Homo sapiens: one gene and its partners. The protein of the gene in region 3 purifies or fractionates together with the protein of the main gene of each other region. This does not show direct contact. Each region holds a gene or a part of one and is shown on either strand. Other genes may lie near its edges.

What was found.
Region 1: the proteins of PWP2 (region 3) and WDR75 purify together in Homo sapiens (affinity purification with mass spectrometry; one large-scale study listed by BioGRID and IntAct). This does not show direct contact.
Region 2: the proteins of PWP2 (region 3) and BBS7 purify together in Homo sapiens (affinity purification with mass spectrometry; 2 studies listed by BioGRID and IntAct, with this or other methods). This does not show direct contact.
Region 4: the proteins of PWP2 (region 3) and ANO4 purify together in Homo sapiens (affinity purification with mass spectrometry; one large-scale study listed by BioGRID and IntAct). This does not show direct contact.
Region 5: the proteins of PWP2 (region 3) and ENOSF1 purify together in Homo sapiens (affinity purification with mass spectrometry; one large-scale study listed by BioGRID and IntAct). This does not show direct contact.
Region 6: the proteins of PWP2 (region 3) and MPHOSPH10 fractionate together in Homo sapiens (co-fractionation; one large-scale study listed by BioGRID). This does not show direct contact.
Region 7: the proteins of PWP2 (region 3) and UTP18 purify together in Homo sapiens (affinity purification with mass spectrometry; one large-scale study listed by BioGRID and IntAct). This does not show direct contact.

The regions. Positions count from the first base shown.
Region 1 is NC_000002.12:189,461,974-189,465,473, reverse strand, and holds part of WDR75 (WD repeat-containing protein 75), read right to left. Parts: intron 2,991-3,500; coding exon 2,832-2,990; intron 1,781-2,831; coding exon 1,721-1,780; intron 1,629-1,720; coding exon 1,513-1,628; intron 396-1,512; coding exon 220-395; intron 1-219. UniProt on the Homo sapiens protein: Ribosome biogenesis factor. Part of the small subunit (SSU) processome, first precursor of the small eukaryotic ribosomal subunit.
Region 2 is NC_000004.12:121,853,475-121,856,974, forward strand, and holds part of BBS7 (BBSome complex member BBS7), read right to left. Parts: intron 2,088-3,500; coding exon 2,015-2,087; coding exon of another isoform or gene 1,970-2,014; intron 1,350-1,969; coding exon of another isoform or gene 1,347-1,349; coding exon 1,230-1,346; intron 1-1,229.
Region 3 is NC_000021.9:44,124,399-44,127,898, forward strand, and holds part of PWP2 (periodic tryptophan protein 2 homolog), read left to right. Parts: intron 1-181; coding exon 182-329; intron 330-1,612; coding exon 1,613-1,721; intron 1,722-2,501; coding exon 2,502-2,567; intron 2,568-3,500. UniProt on the Homo sapiens protein: Part of the small subunit (SSU) processome, first precursor of the small eukaryotic ribosomal subunit.
Region 4 is NC_000012.12:101,119,776-101,123,275, reverse strand, and holds part of ANO4 (anoctamin-4), read right to left. Parts: intron 2,757-3,500; coding exon 2,651-2,756; intron 1-2,650. UniProt on the Homo sapiens protein: Has calcium-dependent phospholipid scramblase activity; scrambles phosphatidylserine, phosphatidylcholine and galactosylceramide. Does not exhibit calcium-activated chloride channel (CaCC) activity.
Region 5 is NC_000018.10:702,631-706,130, forward strand, and holds part of ENOSF1 (mitochondrial enolase superfamily member 1), read right to left. Parts: intron 1-3,500. UniProt on the Homo sapiens protein: Plays a role in the catabolism of L-fucose, a sugar that is part of the carbohydrates that are attached to cellular glycoproteins.
Region 6 is NC_000002.12:71,137,134-71,140,633, reverse strand, and holds part of MPHOSPH10 (U3 small nucleolar ribonucleoprotein protein MPP10), read right to left. Parts: intron 2,145-3,500; coding exon 2,003-2,144; intron 840-2,002; coding exon 772-839; intron 1-771. UniProt on the Homo sapiens protein: Component of the 60-80S U3 small nucleolar ribonucleoprotein (U3 snoRNP). Required for the early cleavages during pre-18S ribosomal RNA processing. Part of the small subunit (SSU) processome, first precursor of the small eukaryotic ribosomal subunit.
Region 7 is NC_000017.11:51,263,546-51,267,045, forward strand, and holds part of UTP18 (U3 small nucleolar RNA-associated protein 18 homolog), read left to right. Parts: intron 1-2,636; coding exon 2,637-2,735; intron 2,736-3,500. UniProt on the Homo sapiens protein: Part of the small subunit (SSU) processome, first precursor of the small eukaryotic ribosomal subunit.

The DNA of each region.
Region 1 (3,500 bases), on a different chromosome or scaffold from region 3:
CCATGTTTCTTTATTCATTATGAGATGACATTATGACTTAGAGGACATCAATGTCTTCTCAGAGCAGAAAGCTTAAAGGTTTTATTAGAATAAAACCTCTCCCATATCTCTAAATCTAAACCTTGTCAAGATGAAACATCTTAAAGACAATTGAAACTGTAAAATGGGAAGTGAAATATTTTATACTTTGAAATTAAGTGGCTACACAGATAGTATTACCCTTGTGTTTTCTTATTATACATCCACAGTTTCATTTGCAATTCAAGCTCAGTTTCCTTTTCTTGCCGCTGTTCCACTGTTGCAAGCCAGTTACCAAAGCAGCCAAATGCAGCCTTTGTTAGTTCAATTTGGATCAGACCATAATCATTAATATATTCTTGCTGTATAATATCTAACTGATGAGTAAAAAAAACCAAAAAACCAAAATGTTTATTAACATAAATACACAAATGTTACAGCATTCAAGAAATGATAATTAACTACATCCAAGACAACTTCTGTACTGTATAGTAATAGATTTTTAAATAAAGGCAAAAATGAACTAATTGTTACTATGGACACCAAAATTGCCATTAAAAAAGGGAACACATTATAATAGTATCAATTTGGTGGTAATTATTCTTCAATGACCTTGAATATTAGCGATTACTAACACCCACTATATGATACAACAGAACCGTTAATTTATAGTAGTGCTTTTCTTTTGTTTCTAAGAACAAACAGCTTTACATCATCTCAAGGCTAGATTCTCTGTCAACAGAAACAAGCAGAACAGAAATAAACCTACAATCTTTAAGAAATGAAAAAAGATAGCCAATGTAAGTAGGCCAGCATTTATTTATGGTTGTTTTAAAAAAAATCCCATTTCCTTGCCTATACTAAGTAAATAAAATGCCTACTATTAAGTGTACTAAATGCCTACAATTTACAGGCATTATACTTGAGATAAGCATAAAATGATTAATATGCTTCCTTTTTTTTGAGGGGTCTAAAGGCCACGGTGAGAAAGAGCTAGTGTCACAGTTGCTATGACAGAGATCTGTAAAGAGTACTGTGGGGAACAAGAAAAGTGGGACATCTGGATTGGACTTATCAGGATTGGAAGAAGTGTTCCTCTTTAATCTACACTGAAAATTTTATCTTCAATATGTGAATATGATAGTGTTTCACCACGAAGCAGATACAAATTTGTACTGTCAATCTACCTATTTTTGTTTCTTTATCCTTGTGACTCAAAAGCACAGATGTATGGGATAGCTAATAGGAGGGCATTCTGAAACAAAAGACAGAGACAGCACGTACAGGAGTGCCAACTGGCTTACATGTAACCTGCAACTGTGGCCTCAATGGAATTATGCTCTGAACAACTGAACTAAGTAACCACGGATAATACTATGTTCAAGTAAACATATGCACAGGATCTTGTTTTAAAAGCTACTAAACAAATTGCTTGACTCCAGTGGTACTGTAAAGAGCTTTCATTAATTTCAAGGCTAATGATCAAAATCTTACATTGTATAACTGTTTATCACTCTGGAGAGAATAAAACTGCAGGTGGCCAGGTTTTCCATTCAAAACCAAAGCTTTAGTTCTTGGATCAATCATCAAACCAGTGAAGATACTCCTATCTGCAGAAGTGGTGACAAATAACAGGTGAAATAAGAGAAATATGCACTCTTTAAAATGTTCATGATTCCAAATCCACTGAGTTCTGCAATACCTTTCACTAGGCCTTGAATTACTGCGGATGCTTCAAGGTTTCGGTGAATAATTATTATCTCTGTGGGTAGAAAAAAATAGGTATTTAAATATCAATAGGTTAGAGAAAGCTTGTCCAACCTGTGGCTCAGGGTGGCTTTTTATGCAGCCTAACACAAATTCATAAACTTTCTGAAAACATTATTATTATTATTATTTTTAGCTCATCAGCTATCATTAGTGTTAGTATATTTTATGTCTGGCCCAAGACAATTCTTTTTCCAATGTGGCTCAGGGAAGCCAAAAGATTGGACACCCCTGGGTTAGAGCTTCAAGGTGAAGGAGTCACCTGAGTTTATATTCTGAAATATACCAGAATACAAAACAACCCAGTAAGTTCAATGAACTCAGAGTACTACTAGAAAATCAGGAATACATTTTGTGAGTTAGTGGAAAATCTAGGGGTGGGGATAGGGGCTTTTCTGTTGGAGTCTTTAAGTTTTTATCAGTTGTGCCTATGAACACATTTTAAGTGTTAATGCAAAATCTATAGAGTATATCTAATAAAAATAGTTTAACTTTTTCATGCCACTAAATGGACTGCTCACAGTTATGTTCTTTTTTGAAAGAAAAGGAAGTGGATTTACAAAGATATCCTAGTCTAGGCTGAGTAGTCACTGGATGAACAAAGTTTTGGAGAAATATAAGACTGCCTCTATTTCTATCAAATCTACAGGACTCTTGCCCCCAGGTAACAGCTGTATCAAAAGAGAATCTTGCAGTATTCTTTTGAAAACGGAAGGTTTATGAAAGCACCAATGTCCACTTCCAAACCTTCCCTTTATTTCCTCATGTCATCCCACACTAAAAGACTTTGAAAATGTAAGTGGCACATCAATAACCAAATACACTTAGCCTTCCATTTTATAAAAATAATTCTCAAAAATGTTGAATTCTGGTGGTGCCTAGGGGTAGAGAGGGGTGGAAAAGAGAGGAGTAATGCAAGGAAAAGAAGGCTCATTAAATCTCATACGCTACTCTTAGTTTTAGGTCTCTTTATTCTCTGTTCCCTACAGATGCTAGCTAATTTATGGTGTTTATATATTTCCTCATAATAAAAAATTTAGACTTACTATTATCAGAGTGAGAAGTGCAGAATAAATCTCCTGCAGGCGAGACTGAGATATGTTCAATAGTAGCTCCTAAACGCGGGAGAAACTCCTTATTCTTCTCTGTTGCATCGCGCCACTCTACAAGTACAGATTCACGACCGCCACTCAGCAGACTGGTGCCTTCATATCCATTCAAGGAAATTAAAAGGATGGTGTTTTGAGGAAAAAAGAGAAAGAAAAATATAATTAACACTTTTGTTTTTGCTACCGTACTAGAGAAATAAACTCATTTAAAGCTACAAAAAGTGTCTTCGTATCTTTTAATATACTCTGAAGACAAATGATCACTGGTTCAGGAATTTTTTTTCCAGTGATATCTGATTAGTTTGTTGCTGACCAACTCCTCTGTTGACAACTAGAAAAGCTGGACAAACAAATATCCTTTAGGCCAAGATAGCTTCACTGATAAATTTTTCTAAACATTTAAATACTATACCAAAAATATTATATATATATAAAAAAAAGCCGATTTCACGACAGATGAAAATTCTTAAGCAAAATACTATACCAATGATATATTAAAGGGTATCATGTCATCGCAGTTTACTGCAAGAATGAGATTACCTTAACAGCTGAAAAATAAATTAATGTAACCCCACTTACAGAACAAAAGGAAAACACCATGATTAT
Region 2 (3,500 bases), on a different chromosome or scaffold from region 3:
CCTAGCTGCTCAGACAAAAATTCTGGGCCACATCTGATTTCTTTCTTTTTCTCACCACCCCTCATATCAAAACTGCTAGCAAATTCCATCTTCTCTACCTCCACAATATATACTGAAATTGTCTATGTTTCCAGCTACTGATAGCCTAGACTAAGCTAGCCTAGACTAGAATAAATTATAATAACTCTTCTAACTGGTCTCCATGCTTCCAGTTTTGACCTGTTGCCCCCCGCCCCCTCCAATCCATTCTCCAGTGTCCTTTGTTTTGTTTAGGCTTAGTAAATTAAGTGTCACACTCCCACTGACAATTTTCTAATGACTTCCTACAGCACCTAGATTAAAATTCAAACTGTTTTCCAAGGCTTACACAATTTGGCTCTACTCTACCTCTCTGACTCCATCTCCTGCCATGTTAACGCATTTAGCCAAACTGACTGACCTTCCTACTGTTCCTCAAATGAATCAAATCTACCTCCACCTCAAATCTTTCACACTTACTTTTTCCTCTTCCTGAAACATTTTTTTCCCCAAATCTTCATATTGCTAACTCTTTTTCTTATCAATCAGATCTCAGTTCAAATTTCACCTCTTCTAAGAGGCTATCTTTGACTACGTGGTCTAAAAGTGACCCTCCTCCTTCTACCATCACTCTCTAATACACAGCCCTGTTTTATTTTCTTCAGGTGACTAGGTAAAGCTGTCTTATGTATTTATTTGTTTTTACTCTGTCTCTCCTAATAAGTATTTGTTGAAGGAATAAATGAATATATGAACATCCTGAACATATACATAGGCATCTCACTATCTACCTAATCAGTTATAAATTCTCCTTAGAAAGGTATAAATTCCTTAGAAAACAGGAATATTCTCTGACCCACTGCACTTCTTCTTTGCCTCATAACAAAGACTCCCAGATTCCAATTAATTCTGTACCTCAAACAACTAAATTACCTCAGACAATTAAAATCCAATTAAAATTGGATTTTAGCATAAAATGATATTAGCCTATAAAAACGTATCAATACCAAATTACTATCAGCATTTCTTACTTTTAAAAAATTATGCCAATAGTATAATAGACCTGACAAATAAACAAATAGTAGATAAATCAAGGTGTGAATTGCTAAGTCTGCTATGTAGTATAAATAGATAAAATAGAATAAATTATATAATTTAAGATACTTAATAATCATTGACACCTCAGAATCTGAACTACATGAAAAGCATACCTCCTCTCTTTTTCTCATTTTGAATTTCCCACTTGCGTACTGGTTTGGATGTAGTAATCTGTATAAGCGCAAGTTTTCCGTCTGATGTCCCAAACAAAAGGTCTTCTCCAGAGTCACCTACTTATAATTAAAGTCAACATATTATATTTATCCTACAATTAGTAATCTCTTTAAAATTAAAATGTTGTTATGTAAAAATATCATTTTAAAAAGTACTATAAAAAGATATAAAACTTAATTGTTGAGAATGGTTATATATTCACACAATTTTATAGCTATAAGAGATAAGACATTTCCCCATTATATAATTTTAAGATGAAGAAACTAGGTTGGGTGCCGTGGCTCATGCCTGTAATCCCAGCACTTTGGGAGACTGAGGTGAGAGGATCCCTTGAGCCCAGGAGTTCCAGACTAACCTGGGCAACATGGCGAAACCCTGTCTCTATAAAAAATACCAAAAACCTAGCCGGGCATGGTGGTGTGCGCCTGTAGTACTAGGGAGGCTGAGGTGGGAGGATCCCTTGAGCCTGGGAGGTCGAGGCCGTGGTGAGCTGAGATTGTACCACTGCACGCCAGCCTGGGAGACAGAGTGAGACCCTGCCCCCCAGCCCCCCAAAAAAGAAAAAAACGGAGAATTAAAAGTTCAATAACTCGTGCTGTTAGTTACTGGCAAGTTACCAGAAAGACAACTGTCTCAATTCTAGTTTATGTCCTTTCTACAATTTCCCATTTTCACTTACTATTAAAACACATAGTTGATTTGTGAAAAATAAAATCCTGATTACCGCCATTTCCATTGTGTAGTGCTAAGACAGTAGGGGGTCCAGGAACTTCAACTGCATACATCACATCAGATCCCTGAAGGAGAAGTATTTAAAAACTGAAACAGAATACAAACTGAAAATAATAGAGGCATTCATGAATAACATCAATATTCAAATACAGTACTCTTAGTAACACCTAGAATAAAATTGCTTTAAAAATTAGGTTACGAATACAACTTGCATTTGTTAGCAATTTTGCATATATCAACTGATTTGAAAACAACATATATACACATATATACGTATAAATGTATACATATATACGTATATATACAGATATGTACACACATGTATACATATATACACATATGTATACATATATGCACATGTATGTGTATATATGTATATGTACATATATGTACATACATGTATGTGTATATATGTATATATGTGTACATGTACATGTGTATATGTATATGTACATATATATGTGTGTATATATATATATATAAAATGTAAAGACCAAGAAGAAAACATTTAAAATATTCTCTACCTTTAATACATTTTAAATACATTGTTTGCCTGAAAACTTGACACTGGCAGATTTTCCTATCAAGTCTCTAGGAACAAATTATTCCCTCTGCCCTCTCTAGGTTAACTGGAAGTCTTTAACTTGGAATACATCCAAATATTTTAACAGACACAAAGTTACTTCCTAAGGAAAATTTTGGCCTTGCCTTTGGGTATTCCCAAAATCTGCTCCAGTCAGAGGCTGAATGACCTGCTACTTAGATAAAAAAACAAGTTAGGTCCTTATATATTTATCAGTTTTTCAATTTTGCTACTTGTAATGCTTGTCATTTTGGGCACAGTATTTGTGATGCTGTTAAAGAATGAGTTAGAAGTACTTATACTCACATGGAAAAAATATCCATGATCTATAATTCAATGAATACAAAATTTGCAAAATGGGGTGTGGTGGCTTATGCCTGTAATCCCAGCACTTCCGGAGGCCAAGACGGGTGGATCATCAGGTCAGGAGTTCAAGACCAGCCTGACCAACATGGTGAAACCGTCTCTACTAAAAATACAAAATTAGCCAGGTGTGGTGGTGCATGCCTGTAATCCCAGCTACTCAGGAGGCTAAAGGAGGAGAATTGCTTGAACCCGGGAAGCAGAGGTCGCAGTGAGCCAAGATTGCACCACTACTCCAGCCTGGGCGACAGAGCAAGACTCCATCTCAAAAAAAAAAGAAAACACAATTTGCAAAATTATAGTTAATATGGTATGACATTTTTGTTTTAATGTTTTTTTTTTTTTGAGATGGAATCTTGCTTTGTTGCCCAGGCTGAAATGCAATGCTGTGACCTCAGCTCGCTGCAACCTCCACCTTCCGGGTTTAAGTGATTCTCCTGTCTCAGCTGCCCGAGTAGCTGGATTACAGGTGCAGGCCACCATGCCTGGCTAAGTTTTGTATTTTTAGTAGAGACAAAGTTTCACCATGTTG
Region 3 (3,500 bases):
CTTGGTATATTGTCCAAGCTTGTCTTGAACTCCTGGACTCAAGCAATCTTCCCAACTCAGCCTCCCAAAGTGCTGAGATAACAGGCGGGAGCCACCATGCAGGCCTAAAGTTGGTTTTTAGGAGCCATACGCTGAGGTTTCCGTGGTGGCCACCGTAAGTCCATGTCTCCTCTCCACCCAGGGCCTTCACCGCCCTGTGCTACTCTGCAGACGGCCACAGCATCCTGGCGGGAGGCATGTCCAAGTTCGTGTGCATCTACCACGTCCGTGAGCAGATTCTCATGAAGAGGTTCGAGATCTCTTGCAACCTGTCTTTGGACGCCATGGAGGTGAGCCGCCAGCGCGGGGCCGGATGGATGTTGCTTCCAATGCAGGTGGAATGCGTCGGGCTCCTGCGTTCTGCACTCCTGGCTCCATGGGGCCTTGGGCACAGTTGTGGTGCTTGTCCTGTATCTAAGTGCACGGGCCCCTCACCTGCCCCAGCAGAGTCCGGCCGTGAAGCCAGCACCTGCCTCAGCTGTGTGTGGAGCCACGGTCCCCAACCCTTTTGGCATTTGGGACCGGTTTCGTGGAAGGCAATTTTTCCACAGACAGGGTTGGGGGGATTGATTTTGGGATGAAACTGTTTCACCTCAGATCAAGATCACCAGGCATTAGATTCTCAGAAGGAGGGTGCAACCTAGATCCCTCACGTGTCGTTCACAATAGGGTTCGCACTCCTGTGAGAATCTAATGCTGCCACTGATCTGTCAGGAGGCGGAGCTCAGGTGGTGATGCGAGCAATGGGGAGCGGCTGTAAATTCAGATGAAGCTTCACTCATTCACCTGCCCACCACTCACCTCCTGCCGTGCAGCCTGTTTCCTAACAGACCATGGGCCAGTACCAGGGGTTGGGAACCACTGCTGTGGATGACCCTGCCGAGGCTGGTTGCTAGGAGGCTGGAGCTGTGAGGGGCAGTGCCCAGCACACGCTGGCTCAGGAGACACGGACATCTGTCAGGGAAGGAGTGAACGAAGAGGGTGCTGGTAGGCCCTGCCCGATGGCTTCCTGCCCGGGGTCCTGTGTACAAGGCTCTGCCTTCACTGTCCCCACTGGTGCCTGCCCTTCCCCCTCAGCACAGCCCTCGGCTCAGGTCCCACTCACATGCTGGCTCCTGCAGGACCTCAGAATGAGAGTGAGGAAGCCCTGGTAGCCTCTAAGCAGGGGTGTGGCTGCTGGGTTCACCTGTCCACGCCCCATCGGGGCAGAAGCCCACTGTCCCCTAAATGTTTCTGGGGGAAAGTGTCCTTGGCATTTTCACAAGGGAGTAGACGGCCATCCTCGCTGTGAGCCCCAGCCTTTGTGATGGTGGCAGCAATGCCAGCATGTAGACCTCAGTCCATCCCCCTCCGCAGCCTCCGCACCTGCCCTGCTCCACAGCTTCCACACCCACCCTGTCTGCAGCTAGCTCTGCAGGAAGAGTCCCTGGGGCACTGCAGGGCTCTCTCCCCGTCCTTGTTCTAGACAGGGCTGAGGCTTGTCTGGTGTTGGGGTCAAAGAGCAAGGGTAGGAGACGAGGGCCAGGCGGCCAGGCCATCAGAAGCAAGGCGTCCACTGCTTTTGCTGTTCTAGGAATTTTTGAACCGAAGAAAAATGACAGAGTTTGGCAACCTGGCACTAATTGATCAGGATGCTGGGCAGGAGGATGGAGTCGCGATACCACTGCCAGGCGTCAGGAAAGGTGAGCAGAGGTTCCTCCCGCATCTGCCCACCACTCACCGGTCCTGGGTGACCACGCATTCATGCCCCTGGTTGGGGCTGCAGTGTGTGGAAATAACAGTTACTACATGGTGACATTTGCTGGACACTGGGGGTGTCAAAGGCCCAGTGGGTTGGTGCTGGTGCCGTCAGCCCCTGGGCAGGAGAAGCTGCCCATGTGTTGCTACACGTGGCCTCCCTGCCCTGGCGGGACCCGTCCATTTGCTCTTGGGACTGGGTGCCCCGTCTGCTGCACAGCACACGGAGCATTCTGGCGTGAGGCCATGTGCGCCGCACAGAGAGCCAGGTGCTCTAGAAGATCTGGGTCCCAGGTAGACCATCCTGATGGGACACTCGCCAGCCAGAAACCCTGAGTGCTTCCATATGCAGGCCCAGGGTACCGTGTTGAGCACAGCAGACCCACTCCTGGGCTGGGCTGGGGCCCTTTTCTGGGTTGGACACACAGTCTGCTGGCCGGGCTGGCTTTTTTGAGCATCTGCCCCATGGGCTGGGCCATCTGTTTGGCAGCTCACCCGGAACAGCCTCCGCGGCCCCAGCACGGGCCCACCTGCCGCAGCTGCAGCGAGGGAAGGGCTGCTTCTGCCTCCGCTTTGTGCAGGACCCAATGAGTAGAGGCTGCTGCTCTTGATGGGGCTCCCACAGCACCCCCCAGCCAGCCGGGAGACCGCAGGATGACTTGCTTCGTGGGGAGAGCAGCCTGGATATGCTGTCCAGTGATCATTAACGGTTCTTTTTTCCCCAGGTGACATGAGTTCTCGGCACTTCAAACCTGAGATCAGGGTGACCTCACTCCGCTTCTCTCCCACTGGTGAGCACTGAGCCATGGGCTTTTGGTGCCGGTGGGCACTGGGGCATCTGTGCCATAGCAAGGCTGGCCACCATGGAGCTGTCTGCAGGCTCTGGGCTGTGCCCTGTGCCCCTGGGTAAGAACATGGCCCTGCAAACCCTGCAGGCCACAAGATGGCTGTTGTCCCTGAGGATGGATGGCTGTCACGGTGCCAACCTCAGATGCACTGAGCTTTGAAACATGGCAGGCCTGGTATGCCCTTGCTCTAGCAGCTCCCCGAGTGCCCTGGACGTGCTGCCTGGGGGCGGCTCTGCCATCACGGAGAGCCCGTCTCCTGCGCACTGCCCCCATCCTCTCGCAGTGGGGAGGAGGGTCTGTGCCACAGGCCTGTGGAGCCTGGCGGTGCACATGGTCCCCACACAGAGGAGCCAGGAGCAGGGCTATTGGCAAGCGTGCTCCAGCCTAGACTGAGTGTCAGAGCCAGGGGCAGAGAGGCCCATGTGAGCCAGGGGTCTGTGCCCTCGGGCCCAAGGGCCAAATCTGGCTGGCCACCTGCTTTGGTCACTGATGTTTTACTGGGACATTTTACTGGGCGTTTTTTTGTTGGCGGATCCTTCTGGCTGTCTCTAGTGATCCGTGCAGCACTGAGTAGGTGCAGCAGAGACCACAGGGCCTGCGGAGCTGAAGACGCCTGAGCTAGACAGAAGACTTGGCTGGCTCCCGGCGTCAAGAGAGGAGGACGCATGCGTGTACATATTTGCTTATATGTGCATCCCTGGGAGAGTAACTTCTGGGATGATCCATTCATTCCTTCCCAGGGGAGTAGTGGGGTGGGGGCTAGAGGCAGACGTCCCGGTTCCTCCTGATTTTTGCACTTTGTCCCAGGGGAATGTACTTAATACTGTTTCTTTAAAAAAAAAAAAAAAGAAAAAAAATGTTGGGAGGAATGAGCTT
Region 4 (3,500 bases), on a different chromosome or scaffold from region 3:
AGACAGTGATGGGTTAAAAATATCTTCTTTAAAGAGAGAGTGTGCCATTGGTAAGATAATTTCCAGGGAAGAGCAGCTTAATATTTTCTTCTTTTGGTTCCCTGGACTGAAGGAAAAAGCAGTGATAGAATAGTCTTGAAGAGGTCTAGGAAACTTTAGATCCAAGCCGAGAGGCAACCTTGGCTTTTATTAATCTGGCTTTAATATATGTGACAAGAGATGAAATTTCCACTTATGACTAGAGTCATAGAAATGCAAACTATTTTTACAGCAATTTTCTTAAACCCTGAAAGAAAATAGATAATATATTTTTATTGACATATAATATAGACAATTGCTAGACAGATTTTACTTTATAATTCCATTTTGAGTCTTAGCTAATAAATACTTACTTGGATGCTTGAATATAAATAATTCCGTGATGATACACAACCAGAAATACCACTTGTAATACCCAGTCCTATTGGAAAATGCTTATGATCATGTTGGGAAATCCTGATAACTATTTGAAAATCATAAATTAACTATATGAATCAGTATATTTCAATATGTGTGGTAATGATGATGGCAATAATTGGAGACATTTAGAAAGAGTGAATCTCCAACTTGACAAAAACAAGCAGTGGGGGAAGGATTCCTTGTTCAATAAATGGTGCTGAGATAACTGGCTATCCATATGCAGAAGAATGAAACTGGACTTCTACCTATCATCATAAACAAAATTTAACTCAAGATGAATTAAAGACTTACATGTAAGACCTCAACTATAAAAATGCTAGAAGAAAACCTAGGAAATACCCTTCTCAATACTGGCCTGGGCAAAGAATTTATGGTGAAGTCCTGAAAAGCAATTGCAACAAAAACAAAAATTGCTAAGTCAAATCTAATTAAAGAGCTTCTGCACAGCAAGAGAAACTGTCAAAGAAGTAAACAGACACCGTACAGAATGGGAGAAAATATTTGCAAACTATGCACCCAATAAAGGTCTAATACCCAGAATCTGTAAGGAACTTAAACAAATCAACATGTAAAAAACAAATAACCCCATTAAAAAGTGGTCAAAGGACACAAACAGATACTTCTCAAAAGAAGATATAGAAGCAGACAACAATAATATGAAAAAATGCTCAGAATCTCTAAGGAAATTAGAGAAATGCAAATCAAAACCACAATGAGACACCATCTCACACCAGTCAGTACGGCTTTTATTAGAAAGTCAGGCCAAGTGCAGTGGCTCACGCCTGTAATCCCAGCACTTTGGGAGGCCAAGGCGGATGGATCATGAGGTCAGGTTAAGACCAGCCTGGCCAAGACAGTGAAACCCCGTCTCCACTAAAAATACAAAAATTAGCCAGGTGTGGTAGCGGGTGCCTGTAATCCCACCTACTCAGGAGGCTGAGGCAGAGAATTACTTGAACCTGGGAGGCAGAGGTTGCAGTGAGCCGAGATTGTGCCATTGCACTCCAGCCTGGGCGACAGAGAGAGAATCAGTCTTAAAAAAAAAAAAAAAAAAAAAAAAAAAGTAAACAAATTAACAGATGCTGGCGAGGCTTCAGAGAAAAGGGGACACCTGCACACTGTTGGTGGAAAGGTAAATTAGTCCAACTACTGTGTAGTCTGGAGATTTCTCAAAGAACAAAGGGCTTAACTACCATTCAACCCAGCAATCCCATTTCTGGGTATATACTCAAAAGAAAATAAAGCATTCTACCAAAAAGACACATGTACTCATATGTCAATCACAGGACTATTCACAATAGCAAAGACATGGAATCAACCTGGGTGCCCATCAATGGTGGACCAGATAGAGAAAATGTGGTATGTATACACCATGGAATACTATGTGGCCATAAAAAAGAATGAAACCATGTCCTTTGCAGCAACATGGATGTAGCTGGAGGCCATTATCTTAAGTGAAATAATGTAGAAACTGAAAACTAAACACTGCAAGTTCTTATTGTACGTACTTAGAGTGGAAGCTAAACACTGGGTACACATGGACATAAAGATGAGAACAACAGACACTGGGGACTACTATAGAGGGGAGAGGGGGAGGGGACAAGGGCTGAATAACTACCTATTGAATACTATGCTCGCTACCTGGGTGGTGGGTTCAGTCGCACCCCAAACCTCAACATCATGCAATGTAACTTTGTAACAAACTTGCACATGTACCCACTGTATCTAAAATAAAAGTTGAAAAAGAAAAAGAAAAAAAGAATGAATCTTACTGGGCTGATGTTTTCCAAATGTTTCCAAATTATGGTCCCAGAATGCCTATAGTCAGAATCATTACAACGAGCTCATGAAAAACAAGCCACAGACATGGTATGTCAGAATATCTGGGAGTGAGGATGGAAAAACTGCATTTTTGCTAAAGTTTAAGAACTATGGCCCCAGAAAATTACATTTAGGAGCAACGAGTTCAGATTTGTCCATTAAAAACCAACTATGGACTTTCAAATATGTCTTGGAAAAATCAAATACTTCAATTAAGAAAAAAGATCAAAAAGAGGTTACATAATATGACACTACTACTTCTGGAAATATAGATAATCACATTCAAAATCCCCATCACTTATTTTTATTCATTACTCCTACTGACTTCATTATGTCAAAGGAAATAAAGAATTTGGCTGAGGAAACTTACCTCAAAGACAATGATAAAAGCTAATCGAGCAGCTAGGACATGCCAAAACTGCAGTGTGTAGCCATAGGGCACCAGTGAATGAGGCGGGTCACGGTAGTCCCGGTATCTATAAAGACACAGAAAAATGTTGCATTCAAACTATGATTTTTCTGATTCTCAAATCTCTTCCATTCTCATTATATAGTCCTCATTCAATAGGAGGGAAATTTGAAGTTTCTCTATACTAGATATCTGTTGTTTTGCTTGTCCAGCATTTTTCTTCTGATAAAATAATATCTCTTCTCTGGGGAATCATCTGTGTGGGTTGACTAGGACTTCCCCCTCCACCTGCCTGATCTCAGCTCAAAAGATGAGCCAGACCTGATCAGTGACATCATCAAGATGTCTGCCAGAACTATCACTTAGTGAATGATCACTAAGCCCACAGAAGGCAAAAGCCTGGGACTCCTGGTGGCCTTGTATGGAGAGAGAGAGCCTGCTTGAGAAGGAAGTCAAGAAAACAAAGCAGAGACAGCAGAGAGGCAGCATCCTGCTGACACTGCTTGAGGCCTGGGATCCGGCCATTACTGAAGCTCATATCACCCCTTGACTCTCCCAGCTAACTGAACAATTTTTTGTTGTTTAAGTCAGTTTACCCTGGATTTCTGCCACTTGCCACTAGAAGAGTCCTTCCTAATGTATCCTCCAGCTATCACTTTTGAGTCGGCATAAAATGCCACAAATGTTTGCCGAATACCTGTTGGGGACCAGGCACTATTCAGAGAACTTTAATCCATGTGACTCCATTAAAGTAATACTTTAATAATACAACAAGCTCTCATAAATCCACTATGAAGCCCAAGAACTAAAA
Region 5 (3,500 bases), on a different chromosome or scaffold from region 3:
TCGGGAAGGTGAGGTGGGACAATCATTTGAGTCTGGAAGGTCAAGGCTGTATGAGCCGTGATTGCACCACTGCACTCCAGCCTGGGTGACAGAGCAAGACCTTATCTCAAATAAATTAATAAATAATAAAAACTTTAAAAACATAAAAAAAGGATAAAAATGAATATTAATTAAGTAAATTTAATAAAGTCATGATTTAAAAAAATACCCAACCAAAAACTACATTGGTATATTCTATACATTTGAAAAACAACCCTCCCTCTCTGTCTCACACACAAGCACTCTCTTCACAGTAACCCTATTTTTTTAAATCATAAACAGATGATTAGGTAAGTAAGCAGAAGAACCAGGATGAGCTAATGGAATTTTTCATCTTTAGTGTGAGTGCTGTGTAACACATTTAGTGAGACTGCAGTGAGTCACCTGAAATATGTAGCAAGGTTAAAGTTAAAATGGGTTCTGTCATGTTGTGGTCTGAAAAAGGAGGAAGCCAAAACCCTTAGCACAAAAGAGTCATTAATTAAAGTCATGGAGAGATGGAAGTTGATTTATCCGTGCCTGAGACATCCACCAAGACAGCGGTGTGGGGCTGGGAATGGAGGAGGAGAGGGGAAGTGAAGGCCCTAAACACTGAGCTCAGCACCCATCCCAGAAGGGCTTCTTATCTATCTTAGTGCCCAGGGCCCCTCCACGTGTGCCCAAGTCAGCAAAGTTTAAAGTCTGGGCTGTTAACAGAGAGTGGGTCCAATGGCCTAACATTATCTTGTAAGCTCGCTGAGTTTTATGCAACCTTTGGGGGCTGTGCTGTAGGGTTTGCAGTATGGAGAAAGGCAGCGGCTTCATAAAGTACTCAACTTACAAACAAGGGACAATTAGAGTTGCAGAAGAAGCAGAAACAGCTCACAGCTCTGTCTTAGTAAGTGGTTACTACTCTGGGGAAAACTTTAACAGTAAATTGTTTACTTAATGGAGAAAAGCGGGACTGACTCACAGCATGGTCTTTCTCTGCCTGGCAAATTCCTGTTTGCTCTTCGAGACTCACCTCAAAGCATTACTTCTGCTCTGAAGCCTTCCCTGAGCCTTTTGGACAGAGTGAAGTTACCCCCTGAGATGGTTTAGACATTCTGCACAAATTTCATGTTGAAGTGTAATCCGCAGTGTTGGAGGTGGGGCCTGGTGGGAGGTGATTATTAGATCTTGGAGGTGGATTTCTCCTGAATGGTTTAGCACTATCCCATTGGTACTGTCTTTGAGATAGTGAGTGAGTTCTCGTGAGATCTGGTGACTTAAAAGTGTGTAGCACCTCCCCATTCCCTTTCTCTTGATCCTTTCGACATAGGACGTGCCTGCTCCCCCTTCACCTTCTACCATGATTGTAAGTGTCCTGAAGCCTCCCTAGAAGCTGAGTAGCTGGCATCATGCTTTCTGTAAAACCTGCAGAACCATGAGGCAATTAAACCTCTTTTTCTTTATAAATTATCCAGTCTCTCGTACTCCTTTATAGCAATGCAAAAATAGCCTGGCTCAGAGTGGTGGTTCATGCCTATAATCTTAGCACTTTGAGAGGCCAAGGTGGGCAGATCATTTGAAGTCAGGAGACCGGCCTGACCAAACATGGTGAAACCTCATCTTTACTAAAAATATAAAAACTAGCCGGGCGTGGTGGTGTGTGCCTGTAATCCCAGCTACTCGGGAGGCTGAGGCATAAGAATTGCTTGAACCCGGGAGGTGGAGGTTGTAGTGAGCGAGATTGCGCCACTGCACTCCAGGCTGGGCAACAGAGCAAGACTCTTGTTTCCAAAAAGAAAAGAAAAAAAAAAAAAAAAAGAACAGCCTAATATATCCTCTCTCTGTAAAACTTGTACATAGTTTTAAAAAACAGTAATTCTCAGACTGCACTATGATCATTTCTTTTATGTCTACTTCCCCAATAAGTTCGTGTGCTCCTTGTATGTGGGATTCTGTCTTCTGTATCTTTTTTCTTTTTTTTTTTGGGATGGAGTCTCGCTTTTTCACCCAGGCTGGAGTGCAGCGGCGCAATCTCGGCTCACTGCAAACTCCAACTCCCAGGTTCAAGCAATTCTCGTGCTTCAGCCTCCTGAGTAGCTGAGATTACAGCCATGCATCACCACGGCCAGGTAATTTTTGTATTTTTAGTAAAGACAGGGTTTCACCATGTTGACCAGGCTGGTCTTGAACTGCTTGACTCAAGCAATCTGCCCGCCTCAGCCTCCCAAAGTGCTGGGATTACAGGCCTGAATCACCACGCCTGGCCTATCTTTCTCTTTTTAAAATTACTTTGGTGCCTGATACATGGCAGCACTCAGAAGTCTGCAGAAGGACTGACTTGCTGGACAACTGACCGCCAGCCCTGTGAAGAGCAGTAACAGCAGCCACCTGGGCAGTGTCCATTGAAAGTTCAAGGAAGGTTCCCTTGCCATTCGCACATACACACACTCACAAACTCACACACTTCTTTTATATGCTTAACAATTTAAAATCTCTCAATGGGCCAAGATTTTTTTCTACAACTACTGAGAGCGCTGATGGTGCAAATATCCAAGGGAGAGGTATCACACTACCACCGAAGTTAGAGAAACTCTTTTCCCTCCTTCTAGACCCTTACCCTTCAATCTATCATAATTTGGCTTCAGGCTCTAATAATCCACTGAAATTGATCTGGCGAAGGCCACTGTTTTGGACTTCTTGAATTTTGTACCATGTGTAAGTATTATGTATTCAAAAAGAGTTGCATTTAAAAGTTCTGAAGAGAAAGTGCTCTGGGCAGTCAGGTGGTTCTGCCATGACTTGCTGGGTAGCTGTCTGTGCCTCAGTTTTCTTCTCTCTAAAAAATGAGACGGCTCAAGATCACCATTTGAGATCACATCCAGCTCTGAAAAAAGTTATGTTCTGTGTCTTCTGTTTAAGAAAATAGAAAATGCAAATAAAAAAAGAATGACGTATACATGGCTCAGTATGCATCTTAAAGAATCTGCTCTTCCCCAAGGGAGACCTCCGAGATTGGGCGGGGCCAAAGCCCTTTTCGCCATGAAAATAGTGAACTGGAAACCGATTTGGTGTGAAATATTTTGAAAAGGCCGGGTGTGATGGCTCACACCTGTAATCCCAGCACTTTGCGAGGCTGAGACAGGCGGATCATTTGAGGTCAGGAGTTCGAGACCAGCCTGGTCAACATGGTGAAACCCTGTCTCTACTAAAAATACAAAAATTGGCTGGGCATGGTGGTGGGAGCCTGTAATCCTAGCTTCTCGGGAGGCTGAGGCAGGAGAATTGCTTGAACCCAGGAGGCAGAGGTTGCAGTGAGCTGAGATTGTGCCACTGCACTCCAGCCTGGGCGACAGAGTGAGACTCTGTCTCAAAAATATATACATATATATATTGAAAAGCGAGTAGACGTGCTGTGCACATCACAATGAGCCTTTTTTGCTATGGGAACTCATGTCTCCTCCCTCTCATTGCCCTTGGTTACTCGCCCACTA
Region 6 (3,500 bases), on a different chromosome or scaffold from region 3:
ACACCATTGAGAAATGGTTTTAAAATTGTAGAACTACCACAATGCTAGGGTTTGAATGTCCCCTCCAAAACTCATGTGGAAACTTAATCCCTGATGTGGCAACACTCAGATGTGGGGCCTTCTAGGACGTGACTGGATCACCAGGGTTTTGCCCTCATGAATGGCAGTTGCATTTATGGATTAATGGGTTATCATCAGTGGGGGAATGGTGGCTCTTAAGAAGAGCAAGAGACACCTGAGCCAGCATCTTAGCATGCTCAGCCCTTTCACCATGTGATGCCCTGCACCACCTTGGGACTCTGCGGAATCCCCACTGGTAAGAAGGCCCCTCGACCTTGGACTTCTCAGCCTCCATAACTGTATTCCTTTTAAGTCACCCAGCTTCAGATATTCTGTTATAAGTAACAGAAAAAAGACTAGGACATATATACTGAATAATTTACCACACCAGATACTGTGCCTAAGCCAAGGGTTCTGGGTGCAACCATCACAGGTCAGCCACCAGCTTCACTGAGCACCGCCCAAAAGGTCAGCAAGACTCACGAGAAAGGATAATGGCTTCTTGCTCCTCTCAGGCACAATACTCGTCTTTCCTGGATACTACTGAAGAGCAGTACCTCACACAACAAAAGCTGACTAGGTAGCCTAGATTTAAGGTTTGTGAACACTAAGTGAAAATAAAAAGCAATAGTCCTACTCTCAAAGTACTCTCACATTATTTCTAAAAATCTTGGTGACATTTTGATTAAGTTAAATTTAATTCTTACTGACCTGATCTCTTATCCTCTGTTTAATGATATCTTCCAGTTGAAGGGTGGTTTCCTCTGTAATCACAGGTGCTAAAGGATATACAACGTTTATTCATTAGGTAGATATCCACTAGACCATTGATTCAGTGCAGTCCTTGGACCCACAGCATCAGCAACACGTGGGAACTTGTTAGAAATGCAAATTCCTGGGCCACCCCCATACTTCCTGAATCAGAAAGTGGGGAAGAGGGACAGCTATCTGTGCTTTAACAAGCCTTGTGATGCTCCCTGAAGTTTGAAAACCACAAAACTAGGATACATATGGTAGTAAGTGCTAATACTTTACCCAAGGTACCCAGGGACTCTTCCCCTCTTTTCCATTCTCTCTTCCATTGAAATAAAATGAAAACTCATTTTGATGTAATGGGTACAAGAAAGAAGTCAATGAGATGACCACAGTTTCAGGTTGAAGTTCAAAATTTAATCAGTGGACCATGACAGGATGCAAGCCTTCAAAACAGATTACTACAAGAAAGCTGATTACAAACTATACATTAGGTATCATTAGCGTATTGTTAAATTTTTTGGGTGGATTAATGGTACTGTGATTACATAGGAGAATGTCCTAGTTCTTAGACGATATCTGCAAAAGTACTTAAAAGTGAAGTGCCATGAGATTGGCAACTTACTTAAAAAAAGGGCACATATACAATCTTACATATGCTAGGGAGAGAAAGCAAATATAACAAAATGGTAACTGGTGAATCCAATTGAATAGCATATAGGTGTTCACTGTAGTATTTTTTCAACTCTTCTGTGTTTATAAGTTGATTTTTTCTTTTTTGACAGAGTGTCGCTCTGTTGCCCAGGCTGCCCACGCTGGAGCACACTGGCACAACCTTGGCTCACTGCAACCTCCCCTTTCTGGGTTCAAGCAATTCTCCTGCCTCAGCCTTCCGAGTAGATGGGATTCTGAAATCTGCCACCGTATCTGGCTGATTTTTGTATTTTTAGTAGAGACGGGGTTTCACCATGTTGGCCAGGCTGGTCTCAAACTCCTGACCTCAGGTGATCCGTCTGCCTCGGCCTCCCAAAGTGCCGGGATTACAGGTGTGAGCTACCATGCCAAGCCATGTGTTTACAAGTTTTTAAAATAAAAAGTTGAGGGAAAAGAAACACCACCCCAAATCTTTGTATGAAATGGAACCATGGAAAAAGCACAGACATGAAAACTACAGAAGAGGGCACCATACCCATCCGGACAGCATGGTCAAAGTGTAGGGTCTCCTCCAGGAGGCTGTTCTCTGGCCTCTTCTGTGCTGTCACTTCCCCCTGAAGCTGCCACGGCTTTTTTTCTAACAACTCTTTTTCTAAAGATGCAATTTTTTCATTCATCTAAGAAAGAGATAAAATAACTAGTATACATTTAGAAAATAAAATCTTATATTTGTGTAAAAGCAAAAAATAATTTAAAAAGTGGGAAAGCAAGAAACGTACTGTTCTACGATTCTGTTCTTGCCATCTTTTTATTCTGTCGATGACTTCCTATTTCTGCTGCCTATGGTGGGGTGAGCTGCAAACAATTTCTTTTCCTGATTAATTTAAAATGCCATGTTTATAATATACTAAACGCCCCCAGAAGCTTTTGAGTTTGTTTCTGGGCTCTATTCTATTCAAGTGATCTATCTATTCGCAAGTCAAGTAATTCTTTGATTAGAATATTAGTATCTGATGGAGTCTGACCCTTTTGACTCCAAACTCAAATTCTTACTCTAACTTCTTTTTTTAAAATTTTTTTGAAGCAGAGTCTCGCTCTGTCGCCTAGGCTGGAGTGCAGTGGTGTGATCTCAGCTCACTGCAACCTCCGTCTCCTGAGCAATTCTCCTGCCTCAGCCTCCCGAGTAGCTGGAATTACAGGCGTGTGCCACCACGCCCGGCTAATTTTTGTATTTTTTAGTAGAGACGGGGTTTCACCAAGTGCTGGGATTACAGGCGTGAGCCACCATGCCTGGCCATTATCTCTAACTTTTAAAAGACAACAATGATGACTTCAGTGTATAAAATGCCAGCCTTTTCAGCTACCTTACAGAATTCTCTTATTTTCCTAATATCAATTCAGTTTATCCATTCGGTTTCCTCTCCAAATACCAACACTTTCATTTTTCACTCTTAGTGGAATATAAATACATCTGCAGTATTCCTAATCTTTTTTTTTTTTTTTTTTTTTTGAGACAGTCTCGCTCAGTTGCCTAGGCTGGAGAGCAGTTGCGTGATCTCAGCTCACTGCAACCTCCACCTCCTAGGCTCAAGCAATCCTCTTACCTTGGACTCCCAAATAACTGGGACCACAGGCGCGTGCAACCACGCCTGACTAATTTTTGTATTTTTTGTAGAGACGAGGTCTTACCATGTTGCCCAGGCTGGTCTCGAACTCCTGAGCTCAAGCAATCCTCCTGCCTTGGTCTCCCAAAGTGTTGGGATTACAGGCATGAGCCACCGCACCTGGCAGTTTTCCTCATCTCTTATCTTTATCTTTTGTAGTTACACTGGCCTATGCGTCTAAAAGAATGTTAATCAACAGTGGTAATTGTAATACTGGACATCTTGTCTTATTCCTGATCTTAAAGGGATGTTTCTAGAATGATGCATGCATCATGCATGATGGCAGTTTTTGGCTTAAATGTATTTATATTCCGCTAGGAGTGAAAAAAAAAATTAGAAATGAATATTGAATTTTATCAAATGTCTTTC
Region 7 (3,500 bases), on a different chromosome or scaffold from region 3:
GAGGGAGAACTGCTGTTAGCATGTTGTCACACTTCTGTCTCAGTCTCCTCTTTGCTGTATACAGTAGCTAAGAGAATACAGTGTTTGAAGTCAGATCTCGATTTGCCTCCTCTTTTGGCCAGTTTCTAATTGACCATGGGCAGTTTGGAACCTACATTTTTTCCTTTGTGAAATGGGCACAATGATAGTAACTACATCAGAATTTTGTTGGGATTAAACAAAATAGTACTTGTAGAACTTTTAGCACAGTGCCTGAAACTGAGTAAAGGCTAAAAAGAAGGTAGCTCACACCATAGGAACTGTCATGGATGAGAATGTACTGTATGCTTGATTTAACATTTTGACTTTTTCTACATAAAGTTACTTTGTAAACATTTCTCCCTACTTAAAAAAAATAGACATTTTAAAATGGCTATGTTGGAGTCAATTATGTGAATTAACCATAATTTACGTGGCTATTGTTGGGTAGATTTTCTTTTTCCCTTTTTTTTTTTTTAATTATTTTTTTTGAAACAGAGTCTTGCTGTTTCACCTAGGCTGGAGTGCAGTGGTGCGATCTTGGTTCACTGCAACCTCTGCCTCCTGGGTTCAAGCGATTCTCCTGCCTCAGCCTCCCGAGTAGCTGTGACTACAGGCGTGTGCCACCACACCTGGCTAATTTTTGTATTTTTAGTAGAGACAGAGTTAGACGGAGTTTTGCTACGTTGGCCAGGCTGGTCTTGAACTCCTGACCTCAAGTATACACCCGTCTCTGCCTCCCAAAGTGCTGAGATTACAGGCGTGAACTGCTGTGCCCAGCCTTATTTTTCCCTTTAATGCAGATTATTTCAGCATTAATGTTTATCACCTCTTTATGTATAAACCTTTCTTTATTTTCTAATTTATTGCCTTAAGAAAGATTCTTTGAGGTAGAATTACTTAATCAAAGAGCACAGTTATTTTTAAGGTTCTTGATAAGTACTGCCAGACTGCATGCTATGGGGCTCTACCAGTTTGCCTTCCCATTGAAAGGTGTCAGTTTCAGTCCATTCTTAGACACAATGGTTTATTTGTTTTTTTTTTCCAGACTCTGTCAGTTTGGTAGTGGGTAATATCTCTACCTAGTTTGTTTTGAGGAAGTGTTTTTGTGTTTAGTCATTGTCTTCTTTTTTTTTTTTTTGAGACTCTCATCCTTTCATCCAGGCTGGAGTTCAGTGGCGCGATCTTGGCTCACTGCAACCTCCGCCTCCCAGGTTCAAGCGATTCTCCTGCTTCAGCCTCCCAAGTAGCTGGGACTACAGGCACATGTCACCATGCCCAGCTAATTTTTGTATTTTTAGTAGAGACGGGGTTTTACCATGTTGGCCAGGCTGGTCTCGAACTGTTGACCTCAAGTGACCTGTTTGCCTCGGCCTCCTAAAGTGCTGGGGTTACAGACATGAGCAACCACACCTGGCCTCGTTTCTTATAAATATTCTTTATTATGTCCTTGTCTATTGGAGACTTTTTAAATAATCTTGGTATATTAGTTCCTGACATATTGAGAATTTCAAACCTTTATATGTTAGATTTATTGTAGGTTTTCCCCAGCTTTCTGTGCATAGAAGTTTTGAATTTTTATATAGTCAAATCTGTGAATCTTTTCCTTCATTATTTTTACTGCTTTTTTAATAGTAAGTAGTTAACAGAGAGAGACAAATGTTTATCTATATTTTTACTTCATAGTATTTTAAGGTTTGCTCTTTTTTTTTTTTTTGAGATGGAGTTTTGCTCTTCTTGCCTGGGCTAGAGTGTAGTGGTGCGATCTTGGCTCACTGCAGCTTCTGCTTCCCAGGTTCAAGTGATTCACCTGCCTCAGCCTCCTGAGTAGATGGGATTACAGGCTCCTGCCACCACGCTGGACTAATTTTGTGTTTTTAGTAGAGGCAGGGTTCCACCACGTTGGCCAGGCTGGTCTCGAGCTCCCGACCTTCAGTGATCCGCCTGTGTCTGCCTCCCAAAGTGCTGGGATTGCAGGCATGAGCCACCGTGCCCGGCCTTTTTTTTTTTTTTTTTTTTTGAGACAGTCTCACTCTTTTGCCCAGGCTGGAGTACAGTGCCACAATCTGGGCTCATTTCAACCTCTGCCTCCTGGGTTCAAGTGGTTCTTCTGCCTCAGCCTCCTGAGTAGCTGGGATTACAGGTGTGTGCCACCCCGCCCAGCTAATTTCTGTATTTTTAGTAGAGATGGTGTTTCACCACGTTGGCCAAGATGGTCTGGATCTCTTGACCTCGTGATCCACCTGCCTCAGCCTCTCAAAGTGCTGGGATTACAGGCGTGAGCCACCACGCTGGGCCTAAGGTTTGCTCTTTATGTATTTAACTCTTTGATTTACTTGGGGTTTATTTTGGAGAATTTCATAAACTGTGTGCAGATAAGTCATGATGAATTTTCTCAAATAGTAGCTCTCCAAAGTGTAAACCAGATGATCTGAAATGTTGGCAACTACTTTTTTGTTCTTTTAGGAAGAACAGAGAAGATGCATTTGAAATGTTCACATCTTAAAAATCTTGACCTATATTGTTTCATTAAACATTTTTCTCCAAGTGCTAAAAGCAGCAGCTATTTATATTAACTCTTTAAAAGTTATTTAAAATATGCTGTTCTGTTTTTGTAGGGTTGACATGATGAACAATCGGTTTCGGAAGGATATGATGAAAAATGCTAGTGAAAGTAAACTTTCGAAAGACAACCTTAAAAAGAGACTTAAAGAAGAGTAAGTGTCTTTTTTCATATGATTTACCAAGAGGTGTATGTAACCAATGCCCAGTCATTAACCGTAACCGCTTCTTGTGTAGTTTTCCATTTTGAAACAGTAAGAGGATTGCTATTGTGGGCAGTGACTAAATTTCTGTAGTTTTTTTTAGGGGAGAGGGGACAAAACACAGACACAAAGAAAATTTGGAAAAAAATTCTTACCACTCAAATATAATCAGTGATAATATTGCTTACTTGTTCATTTGCATATGGTACACCATAATTTTATAATATGAACATTTTCAAAAATTTAAATGGCCACCACCTGGGTTCAATGGTTTTTAACATTTTGTCATATTTGCTTTGTGTATTTGGGGGATGTGTGTGCTTTCCCAATGTATTTGAGAGTAAGGTACAGATAATGCGACACTTAACTCATTAATTTGTCAATGTGCATCTCTTAAGATTAAGGATGTTTTCCTTCATATTCACAATACCATTGTCATACCTAAGAAAATTAACAGTTTACGGCTAGTCCATGTTAGTTTCTCCAATTGTTGTAAGGTGCATACATTTTATTTGGATTTTATGTCCTTTAAATTTATATATTTTTTTGAGGTAGGATCTCACTCTGTCACCCAGGCTGAAATGGAGTGGTGCTGTCATGGCTCATTGCAACCTCTATCTCCTGGGCTCCCCATAGCTGGGACTACAGGCATGTACCACCTTAATTTTTAAAATTTTTTTGTAGGAATGGGGTTTCACTATGTTGCTCAGGCTGGTC